2 linked regions of the Homo sapiens genome follow. The protein of the gene in region 1 purifies or fractionates together with the protein of each later gene. This does not show direct contact. Each region holds a gene or a part of one and is shown on either strand. Other genes may lie near its edges.

Region 1 (3,652 bases):
GTACCCAGCGATCCTGCTCCTAAGTACACATCCAAAAAACCTGGAGGCAGGGTCTTCAGGAGACACCTGCACACCCATGTTCACAGCAGCGTCATTCGCAAGAGCCAAGAGGCAGAAACCACCCAAGTGGGCGCCAATGGAGTCAATAAGGAAAGCGCGGGCTTCCATCCACACAACATGGTTAATGCGGGCTTCCATCCACGTGACGGGGTACACGCAGGCTTCCGTCCACAAGACAGGGTAAACGTGGGCTTCTATCCACACAATGGGGTAAACGCGGGCTTCCAGCCACACAGTGGGGTATTTTTCAGACTTAGAAGGAAGGACTGGCACACTGGCTGACATCTGTAATCCCAGCACTTTGGGGGGCAGAGACAGGAGGATTGCTTGAGGCTAGGGGTTCAAGACTAGCCTGGGCAACATGGTGAGTCCCCATCTCTACAACAAATTTAAAAATTAGCCCGGCGTGGTGGTGGACACCTGTGGTCCCAGCTACTTGGGAGGCTGAGGAGGGAGGATCGCTTAAAGCCCAAAAGGCCAAGGCTGCAGTGAGTCGTGATTGTGCCACCACACTTCAGCATGGGCAACAGAGCAAGACCCTGTCTCAAAAAAAAAAAAAAAAAAAAAAAAAAAAAGGAGGCGAGGAAGGAAGGGAGGGAGGGAGAGGAAAGAAAGACAGGGAGGGAGGGAGGGAGAAAGGAAGGAAGGCAGGCAGCCAGCCAGGCAGCTGGGTACAGTGGCTCACGCCTGTGATCCCAGAACTTTGGAAGGCCAAGGCGGGTGGATCACGAGCTCAAGAGTTCAAGACCAGCCTGGCTGGTCTACTAAAAATACAAAATTTAGCCGGGCATGATAGCAGGCGCTTATAATCCCAGCTACTCGGGAGGCTGAGGCAGGGAATTACTTGAACCCGGGAGGCGGGGGTTGCAGTGAACCGAGATCGCGCCACTGTACTCCAGGCTGGGTGACAAGGGCAAAACTCCATCTCAAAAAAAAAAAAGAAACTGGAAAAAGTTTTAAGAAAATGCCTTACTCTTACGGACACCTAGGAGGTGAGAGGGAATACCTAAGAGAAAGCACAGAGCCATTGCTCACGGATGCCCAAGGAGGGGACGCACGAGCCCCCGGGGGTCGGGTGACAAACACGGTTCTCAAACTCATCCGAGACAATCAGTGAGCAGAGCCACGTGATTACACCCAGCACATGGGCACCGCTCTGCCTCACGCTCCAATGCCCTGGACCCACCGAGACCAGAGGATAGGAGGCAGCCAGATCCTGGAGTGCAAGAAGCTGCCCTTCCCTCAGGAAGCTCTCACCTGAACCCAAGGAGGGTCCACCAGACCCCCTTAACACATTCTCGAGACTGCGAGCCACATGCATCAAAATCACCTAGGAGGCCCGTGGCCCATGTGGTCCCCCCAGCTGGTGTGGACGAGGCCCGTGGATCTGCACTGCCGGCTGGTTCCCAGGGAACGTGCGAGAACCACCGGGCTTAGGAGACAGGCAGTGTACACGACTCCCTTCCAGCTTAAGGACGCAGGCATAGGTGGGGGGCCCAGAGCACAGCACTGAAACAGCTGGGGGTGATGGGAGGAACAGGCGTACTCCCATGCCGGGCTATATTGCTAATTTTTTTTTTTTTTGAGACAGAGTCTCACTGTTGCCCAGGCCGGAGTGCAGTGGCACAATCTCAGCTCACTGCAACCTCTGCCTCCTGCGTTTAAGCGATTCTCCTGCCTCAGCCTCCCGAGTAACTGGGATTACAGGCACCTGCCACCATGCCTGGCTAATTTTTGTATATTTAGTAGAGACAGGGTTTCACCATGTTGACCAGGCTGGTCTTGAACTCCTGACATCAGGTGATCCGCCTGCCTTGGCATCCCAAAGTGCTGGGATTACAGGCGTGAGCCACCGCGCCCGGCCTAATTTTTTTGTAGAGACAGAATCTTGCTGTTTCCCAGGCTGGTCCCAAACTCCTGGGCTCAAGCGATCCACTTGCCTAGGCCTCCTGAAGTATTTGGACTGCAGGTATGAGCCACTGCACCCGGATGCCTCTGAGTTTTAAAGACTGCTCGCACGTCCCAGGCCGGCCGTGGGCTTTCCTCTTGCTCCCAAAGCCCAAGCTCATCATGAGATCAGTTTAAACAGCAAATTCTACACACCCTGAAGTGAGTGGAACTTTCACCTACGCCTTAGGTCCTAAGGCATTCAACATTTTAAAATTAAATATTGCAAGAGGATCTTTTAATAGAAAGATCAGACTCCTGGCCGGGCACAGTGGCTCACGCCTGTCATTCCAGAACTTTGGGAGGCTGAGGCAGGTGGACCACCTGAGGTCAGGAGTTAAGAGATCAGCCTGGCCAACATGGTGAAACCCCATCTCTACTAAAAATACACACATACACAAAAATTAGTTGGGCATGGTGGCGCACGCCTGTAATCCCAGCTACTCGGGAGGTTGAGGCAGGAGAATCACTTGAACCCGGGAGGTGGATGCTGCAGTGAGCCGAGATCGTGTCACTGCACTCCAGCCTGGGTGACAGAGGGAGACTCGATCTCAAAAAAAAGAAAGAAAGAAAAAAAAAAGATCAGACTCCAGACCCGCCAGATACAAGCAGCAACAGTTAATCTTAGAAATGGATACTTGGAAAAGTTTCTCCTCCCACCAGTTACTCACAGAATGCACAGTGGAGACCCAGCTAGGCACACCCCGGACCCATCCAGACAGGAGTTCTGCACCTGCCGGACGACAGAGGCCTGGGGAGGCGCACAGGGCAAGCGGGAAGTGTCAGGTCTGTCAGGTGACACCGCCAAACAGAGCTCTGGAAAGAAGACAGAGGCCGGGCGCAGTGGCTCATTCCTGTAATCCCAGCACTTTGGGAGGAGAGGTGGGTGGATTACTTGAGCCCAGGAGTTCGAAACCAGCAAGACCCCACCCCTACAAAAAATACAAAAATTCAGCTGGGCGTGGTGGTGTGCGCCTATGGTCCCAGCTACTTTGGAGGCTGAGGTGGGAGGATCACTTGAGCTCAGGAGGTTGAGGTTGCACTGAGCCAAGATCACACCACTGCACTCCAGCCTGGGCGACAGAGTGAGGCCCTGTCAAAAAAAAAAAAAAAAGGACAAACCTGTGTCTGTGTGTCAATCTGGAAAAGTGGCACCACAGGAATGGGGCAAGCCTGTTTTTTCTGAGAACGAGACCCAGGGTGGCTGCAGGGCCACAGTGCAGGAGCGCTCTTCTGGACAGGGGTGGGCTGGCAGATGGCCACTCGTTCTGTGGCTACACAGCTGCAGGCCACGTGTATTTTTTTTTCCCAATGAAAATGGGCCTAGAGGCTGGGCATGGTGCCTCAGGCCTGTAATCTCAGGACTCTGGGAAGCCTAGGCATATGGATCGCTTGGGTACTCCGGAGGCTGAGGCACGAGGATCAGCTGAGTCCAGGAGGCAGAGGTTGCAGTGAGCCAAGATCGAGCCACGGCACTCCAGCCTGGGAGACAGAGCCAGACCCTGGCTCAAAAGAAAAACAAAAAAAAGATGGACCCTGGAGAGGCCCGGGGTCCCGCGGGGCGCCTTTTCTATTTCTTTACCGCAATCTGTTTAAAGAGAAAAGCAAGCGCCTGCCCCTCAGCTACACCCCCGGGGCCTCAAGG
Region 2 (3,652 bases), on another chromosome or scaffold:
AGTGCAAATGAAATTTTTTCCAGTGGCTCCTGGATCCTTGAACGGACTTCCTAACATGCCCCGAGGCCAGAGTAGATGTGGCATGTGAGACCCTTTTATTTTCAATGCCGTAGAGCAGAGGTGGGGAGTATTTCAAGAAGTTCTTGTCATCCTTCCCCCTTTTGGCATAAAGGCCCCCAAGGTTATCTGTCTTTGGCTGTTAACATGCCCCATCCATTTACCCAACATACACTTATAAAGTGCTTTCCACATCCCAGACACTGTGCTAGTCACTGAGTCTACAAGGATGACTAAGACATGGTTCTTGCCCTCAAGGAGGAAGGGGGTCATGCAAGTAAATGCAAACGAAGGGCTCCCCCTAAGTACTGTAGATGGAACATACATACCTTTCCATCGGGTAAGGAGCAGGTTGATCCTTACTACTGAGTGCTGAAGACCCATAGTCTGACTGATGGCAGTGAGCAGCACATTCTGAATATGAGGCCACTTAGGATTATGTGTTCTCCTGATGGTAGTTTTTAACATGGGGAAGCACCCTGGGTTCCACACAGAGCAGAAATGTTGCTGTTATACGTTGCCTGGGCAGATTCTGGGCATTCTGACTCTTTCCTAATTATTTAAACTGTGATGCTTCCATATACACTAGGATGACATCTTTCCTTTATTAACATTAAGATGTTATCAAATAATGGAGGGGGATCATGTTGTAACTTTTAAGAGCTCGGTGAATAATAAGACATTGAACTTCTTTTAAAAAATTACGAGTAAGATATAATTCTGGTTCCTAAATTAGATGTGGTGATGGCTGAGCATTTTGAGGACAAGGATAGTTAACAGTAATTTTGGTTGTGGTGTAATTCTGGGCTATCAGTCCCCAAGACAGACTTTTGATTTTTATGATGGGACTTGTCACAAGAGAGCTTGTGACAAGATCAGTGGTGTTGGTTAAGTCTCTATATGCTAAACATAAACTTTTGAGCAGGAAGTCCTGCGTGAATACAGTACAGGCTGGTTTTGAGTGTATGTGGCTTTGTTACTTGAATTTGGATGGACCCATTATGTAAGCCCAGCAGCCCTTTTTGGAAAAGTGAATTGAAGCCAAGTTTTTAATATGCTTGAACTTAAAATACATGCTTTATTGACAACAGCTAGTAATTCATCATTATCCTGAAAGGACAGCTTGTGTACTAAATATTGATTTTTCTTTTTATATTTATCCAAATGATAAAATCTTTGCTTATAATTGGTAGATGAAACATTTTTATCTCCTTGGAGATGAAATGTGATTTCCATGATGGCCACTCAGAGCCTTGTGTCTTCTGTGCACAGGGAGACTCATGCATCTGTATGCCGTGTGCGTGGACTGCCTGGAAGGGGTTCACAAGATCATCTGCATCAAGTGTAAGTCACGGTGGGATGGCAGCTGGCACCAGCTGGGCACTATGTACACCTACGACATCCTGGCTGCCTCTCCATGTTGTCAGGTAGGTACTGAACACACTGAGGGAGCAGTGGGTGATATTAGGCTTCTGTCCCCAAGTGAATGTAGGGAAGATGCGTCTGGCAATAAAGAAGAAATTCAGTCCAGCAATGATGGCTGAGTTACTACTTGTAATGTAGTCATTTAGTGGAATACTATTCAGTCATTAAAAGGAATACTGTAGAATAATATATAATTATGTGGGAAGCATTTCCAGTATATTAGGTCAAAAGAACAGGTTATAAAATGGTATAATAATATGCTTGCATTTGTAAGTAAGTGAGCATGAAAAGGGAATTGCTAACCTGTTACCAGATGGTCTCAGTGGTGGGAGGCTGAATGGTTCCTTTAGTTTTCTTTTTCCTTGAGTATATTTTCTAAGATTCTGTATGATTAGCTTATAGTAAATTTCTAATAGAAAAAATGTTATTCAAAAGGAAGAAAGTCACTTTCTTAAATAGGATTTTCTTGTTTTCTTTCTGTGGGATAGTACAGTTATCCAGGAATTGCATGCCTTGTAAGGTGTTTGAGGTTGTAATCCTTAAAGCACTACTAAAAGGAGGCATTGTCTCATGCTATGAGGACATCTGAAATTTAGCTGTCATCAGAAAAAGAGGGAAGTATTCACATATGAAAACACAAATAACCTATAGAATCACAGGAGACAAAATGCTTGGAAATATCTTGCTTTATTTCCAAGTGCTTGGGGAAGAAAACAGCTTGTTAGGTAATTCCTTGATACTCTCATGGGCAGGAGAGAAATTTTTCTTTGCTCTAAAGTGTTCCAGCCTGGTTTTTTAGTACAAATAGCTGATACATACTTCATTAGTTACTGCATAGTTTTATGTCTTTAGCATTATGGCTTGATTTTTGTAAAGAGAGTATCTTTACTATTATCAGTAGTTATTCACTGTGGCATTTTATGATAGTTATTGTGCCTTGATGCCAGCTCTTGAGAGAAACCAGAGGAAGTGGCTCCCCTCTGCACACACACACCGTGGAGGATTATCTTTTAAATTGAAGAAATAAGGAAGTGAAAGAACTTTTGAGCCTGTTAACTCAGAAGATTAGCACTGGAAAGGACCTGGGATCTAGACCGACCTCCTTATTTCCTCATACAATGGAGGCCTACAAACTTGGGATGTTTTACCCAGGTCTACATACATTGTGTCACAGCCATGACTGCACCGTGTGACTCCTGTTCTGGTGTTCTTTCTGGTACACCATTGAAAGGCAATGAGATTATTTCCATGTCTTTAGGAGGAAAAACAGAACAGCATCCTGCCACACCCAGCCTCTTGGTATTCACCATGCACTGTATTTCTTCCTTAAAACAATTGAAGCCCAGACCTTTCTTTTCTGGCCCCCTACTGAAATGGAAAATATGTTCGATTATTGTTAATTTAAAAAAATCAGTGAGGATACAAGTGTTAGACGCTACTAATGAATCAAGGGAAGTCTTCAATAAGATGTAGCCAAAAATAAGCAATAATTGATTCTTAGAAAGGTATAACAGTGTGAAGACGGGTTTGCTCAGAATCACACTTTTAATGTTGTTCAGAGAGATTACGTAGTTAAAAGAGTGTTTATCTCAGGTTACAGAAAAGTAGTTCCTGCAGTGGCTGAGGATCAGCAGGCTGCTTTGGTTCACTCCAGCCTTGCTGCTTTCTAACCATGGTCTTTGGCATGGTGCTTTATCACATGTGCCTCAGTTGCATTATCTAAAAGTCAGCTAATACTACCTACCTCCCAGGAGTATTTTGAGAACAAGTTGAGATTATACTTTTTAAGTACATTTTTAAAATGAGTCTAAATTGAGTCTGTTTTATTTATAATTTGTGGTTATTCACTTAAGTCCTGGACCCATTGCTGAAAGGTTCCAGGACTGTGCTGTTACGGAGAGGCTAGGCATGAGTGAAGATGCAGGGTGCTGGGAACTCCAGAAGCCTCAGACCAGCACCGCACTTCCTGGATTGCTAATTTTACTTGAGTATCTTGGGAAATTTTATTTTTACATCAAAGAAAACGCAACTTTTCTATAGAGTAGAATGAAAAATGAAATTTCAAAGAAGTTTCGTGGAGGTTTGGGTGAGGGAAGTCAGCTTCAGCCGCTGTCTTAAAATCCAGGGGGAGGGGTTTCTTATTGTTAGGGAACTTCAGTGGAGAGCATTT

What was found. The genes of interacting proteins can lie anywhere in the genome.
Region 2: the proteins of UNKL (region 1) and HECA purify together in Homo sapiens (affinity purification with mass spectrometry, with the first as the bait; one large-scale study listed by BioGRID). This does not show direct contact.

The regions. Positions count from the first base shown.
Region 1 is NC_000016.10:1,404,589-1,408,240, forward strand, and holds part of UNKL (putative E3 ubiquitin-protein ligase UNKL), read right to left. Parts: intron 1-3,652. UniProt on the Homo sapiens protein: May participate in a protein complex showing an E3 ligase activity regulated by RAC1. Ubiquitination is directed towards itself and possibly other substrates, such as SMARCD2/BAF60b. Intrinsic E3 ligase activity has not been proven.
Region 2 is NC_000006.12:139,173,056-139,176,707, forward strand, and holds part of HECA (headcase protein homolog), read left to right. Parts: intron 1-1,329; coding exon 1,330-1,484; intron 1,485-3,652. UniProt on the Homo sapiens protein: May play an important role in some human cancers. May be part of the regulatory mechanism in the development of epithelial tube networks such as the circulatory system and lungs.